Linked DNA regions of Homo sapiens. The protein of the gene in region 1 interacts with the protein of each later gene in a pairwise test. Each region holds a gene or a part of one and is shown on either strand. Other genes may lie near its edges.

Evidence for each region.
Region 2: the proteins of BBS10 (region 1) and BBS12 interact in binary tests that used the Homo sapiens proteins (3 or more experiments, as listed by UniProt).
Region 3: the proteins of BBS10 (region 1) and BBS7 interact in binary tests that used the Homo sapiens proteins (3 or more experiments, as listed by UniProt).

What each region holds. Positions count from the first base shown.
Region 1 is NC_000012.12:76,345,416-76,352,419, reverse strand, and holds the start of BBS10 (BBSome complex assembly protein BBS10), read left to right. Parts: upstream 1-4,004; 5' UTR 4,005-4,061; coding exon 4,062-4,258; intron 4,259-4,632; coding exon 4,633-6,607; 3' UTR 6,608-7,004. UniProt on the Homo sapiens protein: Probable molecular chaperone that assists the folding of proteins upon ATP hydrolysis. Plays a role in the assembly of BBSome, a complex involved in ciliogenesis regulating transports vesicles to the cilia. Involved in adipogenic differentiation.
Region 2 is NC_000004.12:122,728,676-122,735,755, reverse strand, and holds the start of BBS12 (chaperonin-containing T-complex member BBS12), read right to left. Parts: upstream 3,053-7,080; 5' UTR 2,872-3,052; intron 1,853-2,871; exon of another isoform or gene 1,665-1,852; intron 1-1,664. UniProt on the Homo sapiens protein: Component of the chaperonin-containing T-complex (TRiC), a molecular chaperone complex that assists the folding of proteins upon ATP hydrolysis.
Region 3 is NC_000004.12:121,853,415-121,860,529, forward strand, and holds part of BBS7 (BBSome complex member BBS7), read right to left. Parts: intron 5,765-7,115; coding exon 5,578-5,764; intron 2,148-5,577; coding exon 2,075-2,147; coding exon of another isoform or gene 2,030-2,074; intron 1,410-2,029; coding exon of another isoform or gene 1,407-1,409; coding exon 1,290-1,406; intron 1-1,289.

The DNA.
Region 1 (7,004 bases):
TGTTACTCTTTACATACTGTTTATTTTTGTTAGTTTTTAATTGAAGATGGACTGTTGAAATTGTATAGGACCAGTGTCTTATTAATATGATTAATATATTTAGAAGAGCCACGTGAAACCCATGACAAAATGAATGTGAATATTCTTTCTAAAAATTTAGAAAATGTTATCTTTTTGCATTTATTATGTAAAACTGTTTTACAGTATCAAAATTTTTCACTTAAAGAAAAAAAATGCCATGAAACATTTGAACTGATGAGCCACAGAACTTCAGTTGAAATTTTTTTCACTTTTTAGCATGCTAAATATACATCTGAGTTTAAATGTTCTGTTTAATGGCCATTCATAAATTCAAGCACTACCACTGGTCAGTTTTGTGTGATAGAATAAAAATATGTTACCTGCAGTGTAAGTACAGCACACTGTCAAATTCTTTTCCTTAAGGTGCACAGTAAATGTACAGATAGTTATAGGCCACTGTTTTGTAATGTAGTACATTTCTAATCTATTATTCCTAACCTATTATAACTGTTTGCAGAAAGAAAAGAATTTTTCTAATAATCTGTAAAATTATGCTAACTTCTACAAGTAGGCTTCTAAATAAAATTTTTAAAAAGAGCAAACGGTGATCAAGTGACTTTTAATACAATATGATGACTAAATTATTGCTAATTTGTTTTAATCCCCCCTTTTGTGGGGATAGGGATAGCTGCAAAGGATGGCAAAGGGCTTGAAAGGGATTCAACAGTGAGAATCCCTGAAGTATGCTTTGCTTGGTGCCTTATATTCATTCTTCTCGAATCCTCTATGAGAACCTTAGGTGGACGTTAGCCAGATTTTATACATGAAGATGCTGAGGCTCAGAGAGGTTGAAAGTCTCCAAAAGCTGCGGAGTAAGAGTGGTAGCCGACTCTTACTTTAAGAGTAAAAGCACAAGTTTGAATCTGTATCTCCGTGGTACACTTAAATAGAACTCTAATAGCACTTCACTTCTAAATGTCAGGAATATAATCCACTGCTTGAATCTATATTGAGTAATGTAACCCCTTTGTTATGAGTAGCACCACAAAAAAACCCTACTATTAAACATATACGAAATCCATATGAAAGGGTTTTTTTTTCCCCCCTCAGATCACCTATTAGTCCATACTGAGTCAACATCAGATGAGTTCCGAGACATCATTCCTCTCTGGTTTTCCCCCACCCTCCTTTCTTCCCATTCTTGCTCTCTGCTCAGGGTCCAGTTGCTTCTGGCTGTCATTTGGTTTGGTTTTATTAATTGGGGAGAAAAAGATGGGAGGGCCTGCCGGTTCCTCCTATCTTGTTCATAGCAATAAGGATTAAGGAAAACGGCCCCTCATTGTCCAACCTCGTGAAACATCTACAAGATCATTTTCTTGCTAATACTGGCATGCTTCGACTCTAGATGATGTATGTTGTGCCATTATGCTAGTTGAATCTTCTGCATCTCACAAAATATCACTTGTGGGAATAATAAACCAGGAGAGTGGTGACCTACCACAGTAATTTGGTGGGTGCGTCAGAGGCATCTGAACCAGAGCAACTCCAGTAATTTGGTGGGTGCGTCAGAGGCATCTGAACCAGAGCAACTCCATCTTGAATAGGAGCTGGGTAAAATGAGGCTAAGATCTAGGCTGCATTCCCAGATGATTAAGGCATTCTAAGTCACAGGATGAGATAGGAGGTTGGCACAAGATACAGGTCATAAAGACCTTGCTGATAAAACAGGTTGCAGTAAAGAAGCCAGCCAAAACCCACCAAAACCAAGATGGCCACGAGAGTGACCTCTGGTTGTCCTCACTGCTATACTCCCACCAGCACCAAAGACAGTTTACAAATGCCATGGCAATGTCAGGAAGTTACCCTATATGGCCTAAAGAGGGGAGGCATAAATAATCCACTCCTTGTTTAGCATATCATCAAGAAATAACCATAAAAATCGGCAACCAGCAGCCCTTGGGGCTGCTTTGCCTATGGAGTAACCATTCTTTTATTCCTCTTTCTTAATAAACTTGCTTTCACTTTATGGACTCGTCCTGAATTCTTTCTTGCATGAGATCCAAGAACCCTCTCTTGGGGTCTGGATTGGGACCCTTTTCCTCTAACAGGTGTAATATAAATATCTGTTGAGTGCTAACTATGCCAGGCACTATGCAAAGTGTTTAGTGAACATTCTCCACCTACTCAAAACCTCTTGAGATTTTTATTTTGTATATGTTATCTCCACTGGTTTTTTTGGCGGGGATTGTTTTGTTTTGAGACAAGGTCTCGCTCTGTCGCCCAGGCTGGAGTGCAGTGGTGCAATCTTGGCTCACTGCAACCTCCCTTCCCGAGTTCAAATTATTCTCATACCTCAGCCTCCAGAGTAGCTGGGATTACAAGCATGCACCACCATGCCCAGCTAATTTTTGTATTTTTAGTAGAGACGGGATTTTGCTATGTTGGCCATGCTGGTCTTGAACTCTCGGCCTCCTGTGATCTCCCACCTCGGCCTCCCAAAGTCCTGGAATTACAGCCATGAGCCACTGCGGCAGGCCCATTGTTTTTAAAGATGAGAAAAGCAGAGATCAAAGAGGTTACTTGGTGAATGCCACAGGTAAGGAAATGACAGAGCAAATCCAGGTCTGAATCCAAAGCCCATGCTCTCAAGTGCCTGTGTTTTAGGCCAGGCAAGGTGGCTCATGCCTGTAATCCTAAAACTTTGGAAGGCCAAGTTGGGAGGATCACTTGAGGCCAGGAATTCAAGATCAGCCTGGGCAACACAGGGAGACCCTGTCTCTACTAAAAGAGAAAATAACCAGGCGTAGTGAGGCACAAAGCGACTTGAAGGCTAAGACAGGAGGATCACGAGCTCAGGAATGCGGAGCTGCAGTAAGCTATGATCTCGCCACTGCACTCCAGCCTGGGCGGCAGAGTGAAACTTCATCTCTTAAAAAACAAAAAAAATGTTATAAGAGACAGTATTTTCTGTCTTTGGGTTATATACAATAATCCTTGGCCATGTGTTTTAAAGCATACTGTTGATCACCGACGTGATTAATGGATTTAAATCTGCACAGCGGCTCATGCCTGTAATCCCAACACTCTGAAAGGCCGTGGCAGGTGGATCATTCAGGTCATGAGTTCGAGACCAGCCTGGTCAACATGGTGACATCCCCATCTCTACTAAAAATACAAATATTGGCGGGGCACAGTGGCGTATGCCTGTAATCCCAGCTACTTGAGAGGCTGAGGCACGGGAATCGCTTGAGCCCGGGAGGCGGAGGTTGCAGTCAGCCGAGATTGCGCCACTGCACTCCAGCCTGGGCGACAGAGCGGGAGTCCATCTCAAAAAATAGAGACTTCGCATCATTTCTGCTTAATATATTTGTGGTGTCTAGAGTTTTATTGTGATACCTGAGTCTAGGAAATGTGGTAAAGCCTCTGCAGCAGACATAAAGCCTGCAATTCATGGCTGTGGCCAGGCTCTCCTCACCTGTCCTGCATCTACAAATTATTTCCGTTATGGTAAGGAGAGCAACTCGTGGGGAATGTGGACAGGAACATGCGTGAATCCAAGGCAGAGGTTTTGCCCCGGAAAAAGCAGCTTCTGGCAGGGGATGAAAGCCAGCAGAGTTCCAACCGGGGTGCCCTCTCCTTCACGCAGGCCCCACTACCGTGTTGACTTAGGAAGAAAGTTTCTCGGGAGACTAAGGGATTTGGGGGCAGCGGACGCCACTGGAGGGAGATGAATTCACCTAGGGAGCCGGGGAGGGGCTTAGGGTTGCCGCTCCAGGCACAGCTGCTGGAAATCCTAGTCTGTTTTTTCTGCCTTCGCGTACAACGGGCCAGCTCACCCCACCTGGCAAAGCTGCAGGGCTTTTCCACCAGGCGGACAGAAGGGCAGCCCTCTCGCCCAACCAAGAAGCCGTGCTACCCCGGCTTCGACTCCTGGCTTCCGGGTTTTCTCCCCGCCTATTCCGTTTCCGGCCGTTCCCACCCCTGTTTTCGGTCGGCCCGGGTGTTCTGCAAGCTGGTCAAAAAGGGGAAGCGGCCCAGATATGTTAAGTTCTATGGCCGCTGCAGGGTCTGTGAAGGCGGCGTTGCAGGTGGCCGAGGTGCTGGAAGCCATCGTGAGCTGCTGCGTGGGGCCCGAGGGACGGCAAGTTTTGTGTACGAAGCCCACTGGCGAGGTGCTTCTCAGCCGGAATGGAGGCCGCCTCCTGGAGGCGCTACACTTAGAGCATCCCATAGCCAGGTACCCGCGTCCCACACGCTAACCCGTAGCCGGGCACCCCAGGCAGCCTCTGTGGAGCTCTTGTCCCATCCTGAGGCGATGCGTACTTAGAAAGACTGACCTCGGGTGAAACCGCTGTATGCTCGGAATTAGAGCCCTGCCCAAGGGAACACTCCTGCACCCCAAATCTTACCAATTCTCAAGACCACTTCTCCCCACTCCACCCAACGGTGGAATCTTGGAATAGAGCAGAGTTTTTTCCAAGAAAGGAAAAAACTAAGGATGTATCCAAGGAACAATATTCTCATTTTATGCTTATGGCTGTGTAAACATGGTTTTAAGATGTGGGAAGCCAGCCTTCTGAAAATGAGTTGCTTTATTTCTTTTTTGTACAGGATGATAGTGGACTGTGTTTCCAGTCATCTCAAAAAAACAGGAGATGGTGCAAAAACATTTATTATCTTTCTTTGCCATTTGCTTAGAGGACTTCATGCAATCACAGACAGAGAAAAGGATCCTTTGATGTGTGAAAACATTCAAACCCATGGAAGGCATTGGAAAAATTGTTCTCGGTGGAAATTTATTTCCCAGGCTCTCCTAACGTTTCAGACACAAATATTAGACGGTATTATGGACCAGTACCTAAGTAGACACTTTTTGTCTATCTTTTCGTCTGCTAAAGAGAGAACATTGTGTAGGAGCTCTTTAGAGTTGCTCTTAGAAGCATACTTTTGTGGAAGAGTGGGAAGAAATAATCATAAATTTATTTCACAGTTGATGTGTGACTACTTTTTCAAGTGTATGACTTGTAAAAGTGGGATTGGTGTATTTGAGTTAGTGGATGACCATTTTGTAGAGTTGAATGTTGGTGTCACTGGCCTTCCTGTTTCAGATTCCAGGATCATAGCTGGTCTTGTGCTTCAGAAAGATTTTTCTGTGTACCGCCCAGCAGATGGTGACATGCGAATGGTGATAGTAACAGAAACCATTCAGCCTCTTTTTTCCACTTCTGGATCAGAGTTTATTCTAAATTCAGAAGCACAGTTTCAGACATCTCAATTTTGGATTATGGAAAAGACAAAAGCAATAATGAAACATCTACATAGTCAGAATGTAAAATTGCTCATATCTAGTGTGAAACAACCAGATTTAGTTAGTTATTATGCAGGGGTGAATGGCATATCAGTGGTTGAGTGTTTATCATCAGAAGAAGTTTCTCTTATCCGGAGGATCATTGGTCTTTCTCCATTTGTACCACCACAGGCCTTTTCGCAGTGTGAAATACCTAACACTGCTTTGGTGAAATTTTGTAAACCTCTTATCCTTAGATCCAAAAGATATGTTCATCTAGGCTTGATAAGCACATGTGCATTTATACCACACTCTATAGTTCTTTGTGGACCAGTGCATGGTCTCATTGAACAACATGAGGATGCTTTACATGGAGCACTTAAAATGCTTCGGCAATTATTTAAAGACCTTGATCTAAATTACATGACACAAACCAATGACCAAAATGGCACTTCAAGTCTTTTTATTTATAAGAACAGTGGAGAAAGTTATCAAGCACCAGATCCTGGTAATGGCTCAATACAAAGGCCTTATCAGGACACAGTTGCAGAGAACAAAGATGCATTGGAAAAAACTCAAACATATTTAAAAGTACATTCTAATTTGGTAATTCCAGATGTAGAATTAGAAACATATATTCCGTATTCAACCCCCACACTGACACCAACAGATACATTCCAAACAGTTGAAACGCTGACATGTTTGTCTTTGGAAAGAAACAGGCTAACTGATTATTATGAACCATTACTCAAGAACAATTCCACTGCTTATTCAACAAGGGGAAATAGAATAGAAATTTCTTACGAAAATTTACAGGTCACAAATATTACTAGAAAGGGAAGCATGTTACCAGTGAGCTGTAAGTTACCGAATATGGGTACTTCCCAGAGTTACCTTTCCTCATCTATGCCAGCTGGTTGTGTTTTGCCAGTAGGTGGTAATTTTGAGATCTTGTTACATTACTATCTTCTCAATTATGCCAAAAAATGCCATCAATCAGAAGAAACCATGGTTAGTATGATAATAGCTAATGCACTTTTAGGCATTCCCAAAGTCCTTTATAAATCTAAAACAGGAAAGTACAGCTTTCCACATACATATATAAGAGCTGTCCATGCACTGCAAACCAATCAACCCTTGGTAAGCAGTCAGACAGGTTTGGAATCAGTAATGGGTAAATACCAGCTACTAACTTCAGTTCTTCAGTGTTTGACAAAAATATTAACCATTGACATGGTAATCACTGTTAAGAGACACCCTCAGAAAGTTCACAATCAAGATTCAGAAGATGAACTATAACATCAGAAGTTTTTAATTAACCAAACTTTTCATCTAACTCAAGCCAAGTAAAGCAGTCATGTGACCACTGGTTCTAAAGTCAGTTCAGTCTACTTAGGAAAATAGCGTAACTTTAAAAGTCTTTAGAAGAAGCACACTAAGGTCACCAGACCAGATACAAATATTAAATTACTTTATGGAACAAATCTAGAGGGGAAGCCAAGATTTGGCTAAGTGTGTCTGTTTTTTCCCTATTTTATGCCTCTGTGTCTCAGCTCTGTGTTAGCCTATGTGTTTAGGGGAGGGTTTTTCTTTATAGCTCCTTTTTACTCTCCTGTATCTTTTTCACTCCAGCCCTCCTTCATCGTTACATGTTTAGTTCATAGAATCATTTAATCTCTGATTTGGGTGGGCTTAT
Region 2 (7,080 bases), on another chromosome or scaffold:
CAATGATGTATATCCCGAGTACCTACAATATTGCCTGACACACAGCAAGTACTCTATAAATATTTGGTAAGTGAATGAATTTTTTTCACCATATTTGTTCCCCCAAATTTAAGTACAAAACTGAAGCAAGAGAAAACAGACGGTACTTTTAGTATTTCTCCAACATGAATATAAGTTTTAACCATCCTTGGAGTTGACTTGATTCCTATTTGGCACCGCCTTAGTTGAGGCCCTTTAATTGCTTCTAATGAGAGTTCCTCCTTCATATGGTGGTCAGAATTAGCACTGAAAAAGCACAAACCTAAACAGATTACTCCACTGCCAAAAAACATCTATTTATCTTAAAAAAGAAAGTCTTTACTCCTTGGCTTGATATATGTGCCTTATAATCTAACCTCAACCTAATTTATGACTCTTCTCCCACCTTTCCTTATAAACCTCATGATCTTGTCACGCTAGAACATATTTATTTTCACTAAGCTATACTGATTTGAATAGTCTATATTTTCTTCATCTCCATAGATGCTATAGATCTTTCATGACCCAACGCAAATGCCTCATTTCCTATCAGGACTTCTCTAATGCCCTGGGGTAGAGTTGTCCCTCCTTTCTGTGCTCCCAACGCACTTTCTATACCCATCTACCAAAGCAGATTAAAAATACCCTGTATTAAAAACATTGTATTATGTTTGTGTCTAGCTCCCCCACTAATCTGTAGATTCCTTAGTTATTCATCTTTTATATTCTATTTTTATTTCTTTCGAACTCACCCAGTAGTTGGCATAGTGCATGACATATAGAAAACATTAAATACATTTGGGAGATTTAAGAGTGCCTATGTGTTTAATGTTTTCCTGGATAATGATGATGATTAATGTTCTAAAGTGCAGTTAGATTCGTTAATAGCTAGTTTTCAAAACTAATTACATCCTATTCAAGATCTGGGAGTTGGAATCTGAGCCTACAATTAAAAAAACATTTTAACTAGCAGTAAATATTCCAAATATAAAAGCCTAAATCATAGTGATATAAAAATAGGTTAATATACTACTCCGCCATTTAATTGTCATTAGATCAAACATGATCCAAGAGATCCTCGAAATTAGGATTGGGTTGAGTATATACTTGGTCACTATTCATTTCTGGGTCTAAGAAATCCTTTTAATATTAGTATTAAAAATGAAGTATATGGCCGGGCGCAGTTGCTCACGCCTGTAATCCCAGCACTTTGAGAGGCCGAGGCGAGCGGATCATGAAGTCAGGAGATGGAGACCATCCTGGCTAATACGGTGAAACTCCGTCTCTACTAAAAATACAAAAAAATTAGCCGGGCGCGGTGGCGGGCGCCTGTACTCCCAGCTATTCGGGAGGCTGAGGCAGAAGAACGGCGAGAACCCGGGAGGTGGAGCTTGCAGTGAGCCGGGATTGAGCCACTGCACTCCAGCCTGGGCGACAGAGCAGGACTCGGTCTCAAAAAAAAAAAAGTGTATGACCTTGAAACTGATCAAGAGCAACTTTCCAAGTGAGATAAATGACGTGAAAAATCATATATTAAAGTGACCACATTTTACTTAACTCAAAAATTATCTTGGATTTGTGCCATTTTAATTTTCACTGGGTAACTTTATATGGAAAAATCACCTGCAATATGAGGATAAACTTACCTATTTTCCAGAAGCCTAATGAGATTTTTATCAATGATTACAATACTTGCGTGTCTGTCTGGGATATAATATGAACAAGACAGGCTGATGGCTTTGGAAAATGTGCCATGTTTCTACTCAATGAAGCATGAAAAGTGATTTGACAGAGTGCTTCAAGAATGCACTTTGCACTTGTTTTCCTCTCCTGCCTTCAGGAAGATAAGTGAGACAAAAAAAAAAAAAAAAAAAAAAAGACTAAAGTTAGTATTCTTCCTGAATCCATTTTTGAAGAATCCAGTATAATTTTTAGAAAATATTTCCTCTAGAGAAGACATTGTAGGAGGCATAAAAGGGGTCCGCATGTGTGAGCAATTAAAGGTTAGAAGTTTTAAGATTCTCTCATTCCTTCATTCCCACCAGGAAGTCAGTGGTCCATCCTACCTCAGTCTTTCTCCCCTGTCCTTTAAGCTGATTCCTGGCCAAATTCAGAACGGGCAGAAGCAGTAAATCTGGCCCTCTGGACAAGAGATTGAGTTGGTTTACAAAAGTTTCACAAGTATCTAAATCTAGGCCGTTACTGAATCAACTGGATAATCAGACTACCTGTGTCTGACTCTGAAGTGCAGATCAAGTTGATATCGTTGACAACTGGCCAAATCTTAGGACTGGGCCAAGGAAATGGCTGGATGTGTGTGTGTGTGTGTGTGTGTGTGTGTGTGTGTGTGTGTGTGTGTGTTGGGGTTGGAGGGCGGGGTCCGATAGTAATTATGGGTGGGGCCAAAGTCCTACCTCGTAAACAAATGCTACACGAAACATGTAAAAACGTTTATCTATGTATGTAGTGAAGCTTTAAATACATCCCAAGACCCATGCTTATCCCAATACCCACGTCCCTCCAACGACACTGTTACCCCATGCCACTGCTATACAGAATTCTGGTGTCTACCATGCCAGAATCCCTGCCCAAAACAGGGAGGAGGTAAATGGCTGAAGGCCCAGCTCCAGGCACTGTAGAAAATGAGGAAAGTCTAGCGGCAAAAAGAAAGGGCAGTCCCCTCTTCCTCTAGTACTCCTAGCCACATGCTGGACCAATTCACCCCAGGACCTCCAGGCCCTAGATTCTCATTCTTTCCCTGGCCCGAAGAGGACAGAAAAATCAAACACACGGGCTCCCACGTCTTCAGGAAAGACTTAGCTTAGCAGTCAGCGGAAGCACCTCACTACTAACCTCGCTCCTTTCTCCTCTCCTACAGGGGGCTGGAGTTCCCGGCTTCCCACCGGCCAGACGCGATTCTGGCTGGGACAGCAACACCAAAAACGCCAGGGCTAGGGAGCCCAGTTCCCCGTCCGCAGTTTGCGCATGTGCGAAGAGGGGCTTCTGGAGGAGCCGGGGGCTTAGTTGCTAAGAGACACAGCTGGAGAGAGAAGTTCCGCTTAACGCCGGGCTGCGAAAGGCGGGGACGTCACGCTATTGGTAGGGAGTAGAGAGAAAGGGCTGGTTTAAAGGCCTTTTTTTCTGTCCATTGGATGAACTGGATGTCAATAACTCAGGCTGGGTGGGCGGGGCTGAGAGAGGTCGGTGAGAGCGGCCTTAGCAACCGCCAGTGAGCTGTGAAGACTTGGGTTGGGCGGGGCTGCGGGAGGTGACGCCGGGAGGTCCCGGCTGAGAGCGCCGGCTGCCGGCTGGGGACCTGGTGAGTGTGAAGCTGTAACCTTCTGCTGGGGCCGGGGCCGAAGTTTTTCCGCCAGAGCAAGGAAGGCTGCCCCTGGCAGCAACTGCACTCCTTCCTTACTCCTGTTGAGATTCATTTTATAGTAGGAAATAGGTACTTTAATATAGTTTATCATCAATTATTCTGGTTCTGCTAACTATTCCAGTTATATAATTTATCTTTCACCCATATGTGTGTGTATTACAGGCATCTAACTACCATACAAGTTCAGACCAATGGAAGAAAAGAGCAGCAAAAATTGAACTGAATGAATCCCAAAAGCAAGAAATTAAAGACGCCTTTAATTTATTTGATATTGATGGGTCTGGAACCATCGATGTAAAAGAAGGTTCTGAAATTATTTCTAATTCTAAATCATTTTAAAAACCATATTATTTGTGGCAATCTTTAAGGCTTTCTTTAAAAGTAGTCTTCTGAAAGCTTAATATAAAGTCTCTTCAGTGCATATGCCTGCCCTGCATTAGCAAAACGATATCTTGTTAAGCATTTTAATTGTGTTTTATAAATGAGTAGGCAAAAGCCCAGGGTGTAACAGTGATGTACATGATGGCACAGTAGGACTGAAACACAGGCCTGCTGACCTAATTTTCTGTTTATGCTCAGTCCATAATAGAAAAGAGAGAAGCTCTTAATAGGGAGTTAAAAAGCTTAGAAAGAAATCATGGCATATTATAATTCCTTTTCTTCCTATTTCAGATTGCAGTGTGGGCCTTAGGATTTGAACCAAAGAAAGAAGAAATTTAAAAAATGGTAGCTGAAGTTGATAAAGAAGGAATTGGCACCATTAGTTTTGAAGATTTTTTTTTGCCATTATGAGTATAAAAATGATATAGTTATGATTTTATTTTTCAAAGAAATACTAGCAATAACCTGCTACATTTTAGGGCTGGAGCAATCAGAAGTTTTATAGAGAAGCAATTAGAACTAGGTTTTTAAGGATGGGAGATAGGAAGAGCAAGATTAAATATGTTTTCAGGGTAGTAATGAGAAGACTATGATGTGGAGAAGAGGTTTTTGTCAGGAAATAATGAGGCTATATTGCAGGATAGAGAGAATGGGGCCAGAATTTGGAAGCCTTTAATTCAGCAACATATATTGAATGCCTATTTTTGCCAGGCACTATTCTAAGGAGCATTGAAAGATACAACCTTCCATTTTGAAGCTTACATTTTTGGTAACGGATCTGAATTATGAGGTTTAATAAGAGATGCATTCTGGACCACCCTGTGCCTTCTCCACCTTAGCAAGCTCTACCTTTAAGCACCTTGAGGGCAGGTGTGAGTACATAATTGTTAAAAGACCAATAAATAAAATCAGAACACAGCTACTTGGCACATTGCTGCTTTAGACCCCAAAGATCTAATTAAGTCCAGCTTGATAAAATAAATAAATGAAAGACTGGATAGTTGCTTCTTTTTTAAAAGAGTAAAAAAGATGAAAAAGAAGAAATATTGAAGACTTTCAAATTATTTGATGATGATGATACTGGAAGTATAATACTAACCGGTATCAAGAGGTTTGCTAAGAAACCAGGGGAAAATTTAACATGATGAACTTCAGGTAGATTTTGCTTATTTTTATAATTATAATTTATATGTAATTATAACTTATGTGATAATTTAGGATTATAATTCTAACTTTAGTTGCACTTATGCATTTAAAATAAAATTTGGTTTTGAATATGTGTTTGACTTCATTTATGTCATTTTAAATGTATTTCATATATTTACATTTTGTTTTACAGGAAATGCTTGATGAAGCTGATCATGATAGAGATGGAGAAATAAACGAGGAAGATGTTTTGAGAGTGATGAAAAAGACTACTCGTTATTAATAGCGTTGTTTTAGTCCTTGTGGAAAATTAACAAATTTGTATTTGTTATGCAGTTTTATAATTTAATATCTGAATGTATTCATTTTCAGTTTTTAGTTTATATGTACACATTGGCTTCTTGATGTCTAATCCATGTAAGAAGTTACACATCTCTACCAATATGATGTTAAATCTACAGCATCAAGAAACAAAACATAATGACTTCTTTGAGCCATTAATCCAAGAACAGTATTGATTCTAGCTGCTCTTTTGAGAACCTTAGGTCACAAAGACTTAGAATTTTAAAGTTTGATGAAGTTGGCTTCACATCCAAATGAATTTGGCAAACAAAACTTATATTTTCCTTTTGTGCAACCCAAAAAAACCTGATGAACATTTGCTTTTTAGTCAGTTACTCAAATACATAAAGTATTAAATAGAACTGTCTGGAAACATTATTTGCTAATTTTCTTCTTTTAGTTATAAAGAAAATTCAAAATAGCACTTACATCACCCATATTTCCCTGTAAGTTTGACTCTATAGTGAGCACTTAATACCTCTGTGCTAGGACAGGTGGTGTAGAGTTTTATTTTTAAAAAATTTTATTTATATATTTTTTGAGACAAAATCTCCCTCTGTCACCCAGGCTGGAGTGCAGTGGTGCGATCTCGGCTCAATGCAACCTCTGCCTCCTGGGCTCAAGAGATTCTCCTGCCTCAGCCTCCCGAGTAGCTGGGACTACAGGTACCTGCCACCATGCCTAGCTAATTTTTTGCATTTTTAGTAGAGACGGAGTTTCACTGTGTTAGCCATGATGGTCTCAATCTCCTGACCTCATGATCTGCCTACCTCAGCCTCCCAAACTGCTGGGATTACAGGGGTGAGCCACCGTGCCTGGCCGAGATTTTATGTGTTAACCTCAGTAAACATATTACAAGTTGGAAGCTGATTGTATTAGCTCCATTTTACATACAAGAAAACTAAAGTTCAGAGAAGTTTTAAAAATTCCCCAGTTGCCCATTGATAAGAAATAAAACATGGATTCCAAATCTTAAGTTCTTATTCTTCATTATGCTGCTTCCCTATGGATAAAACTTTCAAGATAACTGTGTATTTTCTAACTCATTTTCAATTCTGTGACTCTTGTGATTTCTTCCTTGTGAAAGAGCCAAACTGTTGGGAAACGGAATCTCATACATACAGTCTTTTAACTCCTACTCAGTTGTTTGAGAGTGGGCCTTGGGCCTGGAACACTTCTTTTGAAGAGACTAGGAGTCCACAGAGCCTGTGCTGAACTTACCACCCCGTATAGTAATATCTTCCTCTGTTTCAGAGTCAATGTGTAGTCCTTTGCCCTGCTTAAGTGTGTGCATCATATGGCATCTGACCAACCCCACTGCTCTGTCTCCTGTGGGGGAGGGGATGGGGGTCCTTCAGCACAAGAGGAGTGTTTGCAGGCCACCTGCCCTGTGTCAGCTGCCAAGAGGGACCCTCTGGTCATGGGAGACTGAAGTCCACTAGGGAAGCTGATCTTGCTCTGTCTCTTCTGTATGTGAGTAATGTGTGTTCCACCCAGTGTTTCACTGCATTGTTTTCCTTGGCGACTTTGAAACAAGATGCAGTGGACAGAAGTGCTCAGACTTCTGCTCCTGACAAATAGGCAACAGATGCCACTTGCTCCACACAAACACTTTCTGATAACCAAGTTGTCTTTGGAGCAAGAAAGACTCATAGAAAATTAACTATAGTGACACTACCTGGTTCATTTTTAGCACAACTGAAATGAAAACTGAAGGTTTTAATTTTGTCTTGTCAACACAAGAGGTTTTATTTGATTGAAACTAGAATTGTATGTGCTCATGAGCATTCTCAAGTGTTTTCACAGTGTCT
Region 3 (7,115 bases), on another chromosome or scaffold:
ACCATACCCCCTCAATACTGCTCCTCCCTCTGTCTTCCCCCATCTCCATAAATTATTCTACCTAGCTGCTCAGACAAAAATTCTGGGCCACATCTGATTTCTTTCTTTTTCTCACCACCCCTCATATCAAAACTGCTAGCAAATTCCATCTTCTCTACCTCCACAATATATACTGAAATTGTCTATGTTTCCAGCTACTGATAGCCTAGACTAAGCTAGCCTAGACTAGAATAAATTATAATAACTCTTCTAACTGGTCTCCATGCTTCCAGTTTTGACCTGTTGCCCCCCGCCCCCTCCAATCCATTCTCCAGTGTCCTTTGTTTTGTTTAGGCTTAGTAAATTAAGTGTCACACTCCCACTGACAATTTTCTAATGACTTCCTACAGCACCTAGATTAAAATTCAAACTGTTTTCCAAGGCTTACACAATTTGGCTCTACTCTACCTCTCTGACTCCATCTCCTGCCATGTTAACGCATTTAGCCAAACTGACTGACCTTCCTACTGTTCCTCAAATGAATCAAATCTACCTCCACCTCAAATCTTTCACACTTACTTTTTCCTCTTCCTGAAACATTTTTTTCCCCAAATCTTCATATTGCTAACTCTTTTTCTTATCAATCAGATCTCAGTTCAAATTTCACCTCTTCTAAGAGGCTATCTTTGACTACGTGGTCTAAAAGTGACCCTCCTCCTTCTACCATCACTCTCTAATACACAGCCCTGTTTTATTTTCTTCAGGTGACTAGGTAAAGCTGTCTTATGTATTTATTTGTTTTTACTCTGTCTCTCCTAATAAGTATTTGTTGAAGGAATAAATGAATATATGAACATCCTGAACATATACATAGGCATCTCACTATCTACCTAATCAGTTATAAATTCTCCTTAGAAAGGTATAAATTCCTTAGAAAACAGGAATATTCTCTGACCCACTGCACTTCTTCTTTGCCTCATAACAAAGACTCCCAGATTCCAATTAATTCTGTACCTCAAACAACTAAATTACCTCAGACAATTAAAATCCAATTAAAATTGGATTTTAGCATAAAATGATATTAGCCTATAAAAACGTATCAATACCAAATTACTATCAGCATTTCTTACTTTTAAAAAATTATGCCAATAGTATAATAGACCTGACAAATAAACAAATAGTAGATAAATCAAGGTGTGAATTGCTAAGTCTGCTATGTAGTATAAATAGATAAAATAGAATAAATTATATAATTTAAGATACTTAATAATCATTGACACCTCAGAATCTGAACTACATGAAAAGCATACCTCCTCTCTTTTTCTCATTTTGAATTTCCCACTTGCGTACTGGTTTGGATGTAGTAATCTGTATAAGCGCAAGTTTTCCGTCTGATGTCCCAAACAAAAGGTCTTCTCCAGAGTCACCTACTTATAATTAAAGTCAACATATTATATTTATCCTACAATTAGTAATCTCTTTAAAATTAAAATGTTGTTATGTAAAAATATCATTTTAAAAAGTACTATAAAAAGATATAAAACTTAATTGTTGAGAATGGTTATATATTCACACAATTTTATAGCTATAAGAGATAAGACATTTCCCCATTATATAATTTTAAGATGAAGAAACTAGGTTGGGTGCCGTGGCTCATGCCTGTAATCCCAGCACTTTGGGAGACTGAGGTGAGAGGATCCCTTGAGCCCAGGAGTTCCAGACTAACCTGGGCAACATGGCGAAACCCTGTCTCTATAAAAAATACCAAAAACCTAGCCGGGCATGGTGGTGTGCGCCTGTAGTACTAGGGAGGCTGAGGTGGGAGGATCCCTTGAGCCTGGGAGGTCGAGGCCGTGGTGAGCTGAGATTGTACCACTGCACGCCAGCCTGGGAGACAGAGTGAGACCCTGCCCCCCAGCCCCCCAAAAAAGAAAAAAACGGAGAATTAAAAGTTCAATAACTCGTGCTGTTAGTTACTGGCAAGTTACCAGAAAGACAACTGTCTCAATTCTAGTTTATGTCCTTTCTACAATTTCCCATTTTCACTTACTATTAAAACACATAGTTGATTTGTGAAAAATAAAATCCTGATTACCGCCATTTCCATTGTGTAGTGCTAAGACAGTAGGGGGTCCAGGAACTTCAACTGCATACATCACATCAGATCCCTGAAGGAGAAGTATTTAAAAACTGAAACAGAATACAAACTGAAAATAATAGAGGCATTCATGAATAACATCAATATTCAAATACAGTACTCTTAGTAACACCTAGAATAAAATTGCTTTAAAAATTAGGTTACGAATACAACTTGCATTTGTTAGCAATTTTGCATATATCAACTGATTTGAAAACAACATATATACACATATATACGTATAAATGTATACATATATACGTATATATACAGATATGTACACACATGTATACATATATACACATATGTATACATATATGCACATGTATGTGTATATATGTATATGTACATATATGTACATACATGTATGTGTATATATGTATATATGTGTACATGTACATGTGTATATGTATATGTACATATATATGTGTGTATATATATATATATAAAATGTAAAGACCAAGAAGAAAACATTTAAAATATTCTCTACCTTTAATACATTTTAAATACATTGTTTGCCTGAAAACTTGACACTGGCAGATTTTCCTATCAAGTCTCTAGGAACAAATTATTCCCTCTGCCCTCTCTAGGTTAACTGGAAGTCTTTAACTTGGAATACATCCAAATATTTTAACAGACACAAAGTTACTTCCTAAGGAAAATTTTGGCCTTGCCTTTGGGTATTCCCAAAATCTGCTCCAGTCAGAGGCTGAATGACCTGCTACTTAGATAAAAAAACAAGTTAGGTCCTTATATATTTATCAGTTTTTCAATTTTGCTACTTGTAATGCTTGTCATTTTGGGCACAGTATTTGTGATGCTGTTAAAGAATGAGTTAGAAGTACTTATACTCACATGGAAAAAATATCCATGATCTATAATTCAATGAATACAAAATTTGCAAAATGGGGTGTGGTGGCTTATGCCTGTAATCCCAGCACTTCCGGAGGCCAAGACGGGTGGATCATCAGGTCAGGAGTTCAAGACCAGCCTGACCAACATGGTGAAACCGTCTCTACTAAAAATACAAAATTAGCCAGGTGTGGTGGTGCATGCCTGTAATCCCAGCTACTCAGGAGGCTAAAGGAGGAGAATTGCTTGAACCCGGGAAGCAGAGGTCGCAGTGAGCCAAGATTGCACCACTACTCCAGCCTGGGCGACAGAGCAAGACTCCATCTCAAAAAAAAAAGAAAACACAATTTGCAAAATTATAGTTAATATGGTATGACATTTTTGTTTTAATGTTTTTTTTTTTTTGAGATGGAATCTTGCTTTGTTGCCCAGGCTGAAATGCAATGCTGTGACCTCAGCTCGCTGCAACCTCCACCTTCCGGGTTTAAGTGATTCTCCTGTCTCAGCTGCCCGAGTAGCTGGATTACAGGTGCAGGCCACCATGCCTGGCTAAGTTTTGTATTTTTAGTAGAGACAAAGTTTCACCATGTTGGCCAGACTGGTCTTGAACTCCTGACCTCAGGTGATCCATCTGCCTCAGCCTCCCACAGTGCTGGGATTACAGGCGTGAGCCACCACATCAGGACTAAAAAAAGTTTAATGTTTATTTAGAAAACGTAAGAAAGCCATATGCTTTATCTTTTTTTTTTTTTTTGAGCCAGGATCTGACTCTGTCATCCAGGCTGGAGTGCAGTGCAGTGGTGTGATCATAGCTTACCGCAGCCTCGACCTTCTGGGCTCAAATGATGTTCCCACCTCAGCTTCCTGAGTAGCTGGGACTACTGGCATGCACCACCATGCCCAGCTAAATTTTTTTTAAGAGATGGGGGTCTCGCTATGTTGCCCAGGCTGGTCTTGAATTCCTGGAGTCAAGTGATCCTCCAACCTCGGCCTCCCAAAGTGCTGGGGTAATAGGCCTGAGCCGCTGTGCCCAGCCTGTTTTATCTTTTATTTAAAATATCATATTAAAATTTACAGATATCTACACGTAACTATATAAACACAAAAGAATATACACAAAACTGTTAAAAAGAGGCAACCTCTGGAGTAATGGATTATTCACAGAGATAGACGGGGAGTGAGAAAAAAGCATGCGGTGCAGAGGGAAAGACTTCAACTTTATTTTCTACAGATCTTTAGTAATTATTTTAAAAATAATAAGCATATGGATCTCTTGTCAAAGCAGAATCCTAGAATTCAGTCAATTTCTAATTGAATGCTAAACAGCTCCTGTTAAAAGCCTTGTTCAAAACAATTCATATTTAAAAGCATAGGCTATGGGGGAAATTAATCATTCATAACTCTAAAATGAACCTTTTTTCTTTTCTTTTTTTTTTTTTTTTGAGATGGAGTCTCCCTCTGTTGCCCAGGCTGGAGTGCAGTGATGCAATTTCAGCTCACCGCAACCTCCGCCTCCTGGGTTCGAGTGATTCTTGTGCTTCAGCCTCCTGAGTAACTGGGATTACAGGTGTGTGCTACTGCACCCAGCTAATTTTGTATTTTTAGTAGAGACAGGGTTTCACCATGTTGGCCAGGCTGGTCTCAAACTCCTGGCCTCAAATGATCTTCCCGTCTCAGCCTCCAAAAGTGCTGGAATTACAGGTGTGAGCCACCATGCCTGGCCTAAAATGAACCTTTAACATTACTTTGTCCCTGGGGGGTAAAAACCTCATAGACTCACTGGATTTTTCCTTTTACAAAAGGGCTGATGCCAAGAAATGGCCATCTGACTATGGAATTCCAAAGAGTGAGATAGCCTGTGGTGGCATGGACTTCACAGCTCAACTTTTTCATCAACTGCACCAACTATATCAGCCTGTTTCTGATACAGTTCATCTAACTGTTACATGCTATTTACCTTTAAACATTATTTTAAGCATCCTATAGAGTGTGTGTGTGTGTGTGTGTGCATATATTTTATTGAAAGTCACTCTCAAGAAGATATAGTGGTAACTATTATTACTCATAACAATGACCTGAAGCAGTTGTTTTAGCCAATCGTGGTTTTTACCAGAAATATAAGGACATCAAAATGAATTTTCCCTCTATCACTCATTTACTTATCCAACATATATTTACTGAGTGCTTATTCCATATACTTCCATAAACACTGGATAAACTCAAGTTATATAACATCCTCCCTCCAACCCAATTTCTTCCTTTAATTTGATTTTTGGGGAAGATAAAGGTGATGGAAGAAGAAAACAAAACAAAAAGGCAGGTAAAGGTTCTCTGTAGTCAAAGTACTCCATTCTGATAATAGCTCAGAAATTGTGTATGGTGAGGCAAAAAAAATCCTTTTTCTTCCAAATATGCTTCTCTTAAAAACTTACAAAACAACACATTTGACTCAAGTTAAAAAAATTAATATGTCAAATTATTTAAAAATTGTTTCCACATGTTTATAAAAGCCCTTAAAACAGTAACCACTAATTTATCTCAAGTACATAATGTTCATTGATATTCTTTCACATAATATAAAAAATTAGAAAAATACAAATAACAGCAACCTGTAAAACTCTGAGCACTCTGTCCTGGCAGGCCAATACAGGTGTGATACGAGATAATCTTTCCACTGGAAGGCAGATCACATCATTGATTTTATCCCCAGAAAGGTAATAATGTTGGTCTTTGCAGTCACAATAATGGTTATAGATGTAACTTGCACTGAGAAAGAGGTCTGAGCCAGATATGTGCCTGAGAACATTAAAATAGTAATTTTTAAAAATAAGCACAGGTACTGAATTTTTTTCAGAGATAAAAACAGAAAAATGTATACAGTTTACTAACATTTTATTATAGACTTAGAGAACACAGTTTTTAAAACTTTCTCCTAGTTAATTCCTAGTATTTTTGGTATAACACTGTTTTTGATTTTGAAAGCTGAAAATGAGGATGTTAAGGCCTCGGGCTTCTCAATAAAAACTGAGCTCAGAAAAATGGAAAACAAAGACAAGATAATGATAATTTAACTGTCTATATCCAAAGACAATTAATACATCAAAAAATGACTTCTTTGTGTACTATGTGCCAAGCACTATCTTAAGTGATTTTTATGTATTAGATCAATTAATCATCATAACTCTATAAAATAAGGACCATTATTATTCCTTTTACAGGTGAATAATAAAATGTAAAATAACTTGCCTAATGGCACCTAAGTATTAAGTAGTAGATTAGACTGCAACTCAGTTTTTTGCTCGAGTTAGCTTTCTTACTACCACACTAAATTGCCTGAAAAAGTCTATTTTAAGTGATTCTACCTCAAACTAAATGATAAACAGCAGAAAAAAAAAGATTTCATTAGAACTTTATCTTGAAAAAAGAAATGAAAACAAGTTTATTTCATATTACATTTAACAAAATTTAGTCAATAGTCATAACTATATTCTAATTCTTAGACTGAACTGAGTTTTCACTTGGGTGAGCTAAAATGTCTTGACAAAAATTATATTTAAGTGTGATATATTTTTCACTTCTAGGTTGTTATTACCATATTTATCATAAAGAGGGTAATTTTATTTGAATGTTTCATGTATTCCTCTACCTCCAAGTTCTATTAAAAAATTTTATATTAAAATTATTCTCTGAAGAGCTTATCCTATAATAATCCTCCCTGATTTTCTATTCTTCAGTTATTAAGTGGCCTCACTTTGTGGCTCTGCATATGATTGAATAGTCCTCTTACTATTTTTATCAATTTCATGAAATTCTCTATGTTTTTCAAAATTTTAAATTCCATTTTGAAACCAATCTGTATTATATTTGCATTATATTGGCCAAAGTACTATTTAGCAATCTCTATTGTTGACATGAGTGGGGATACATGGCAACATTAAGCAGGAAAGGATATGTGGTGACTAATGTTAAGTGGTCAGTTTCCTTACTGAATATCTTCAAGTTATAACTTTTGTTTTCCTATAAAACCTTACAAATGTGGGGATTCAGACAATCAATTTTCAAAAATTGAGTAAAGAACTTTTCTATCCCATCTTTGCCACTCTAGTAAAAACATTTAAGAAACCACTTGAAGAGACTGTTACTGAGA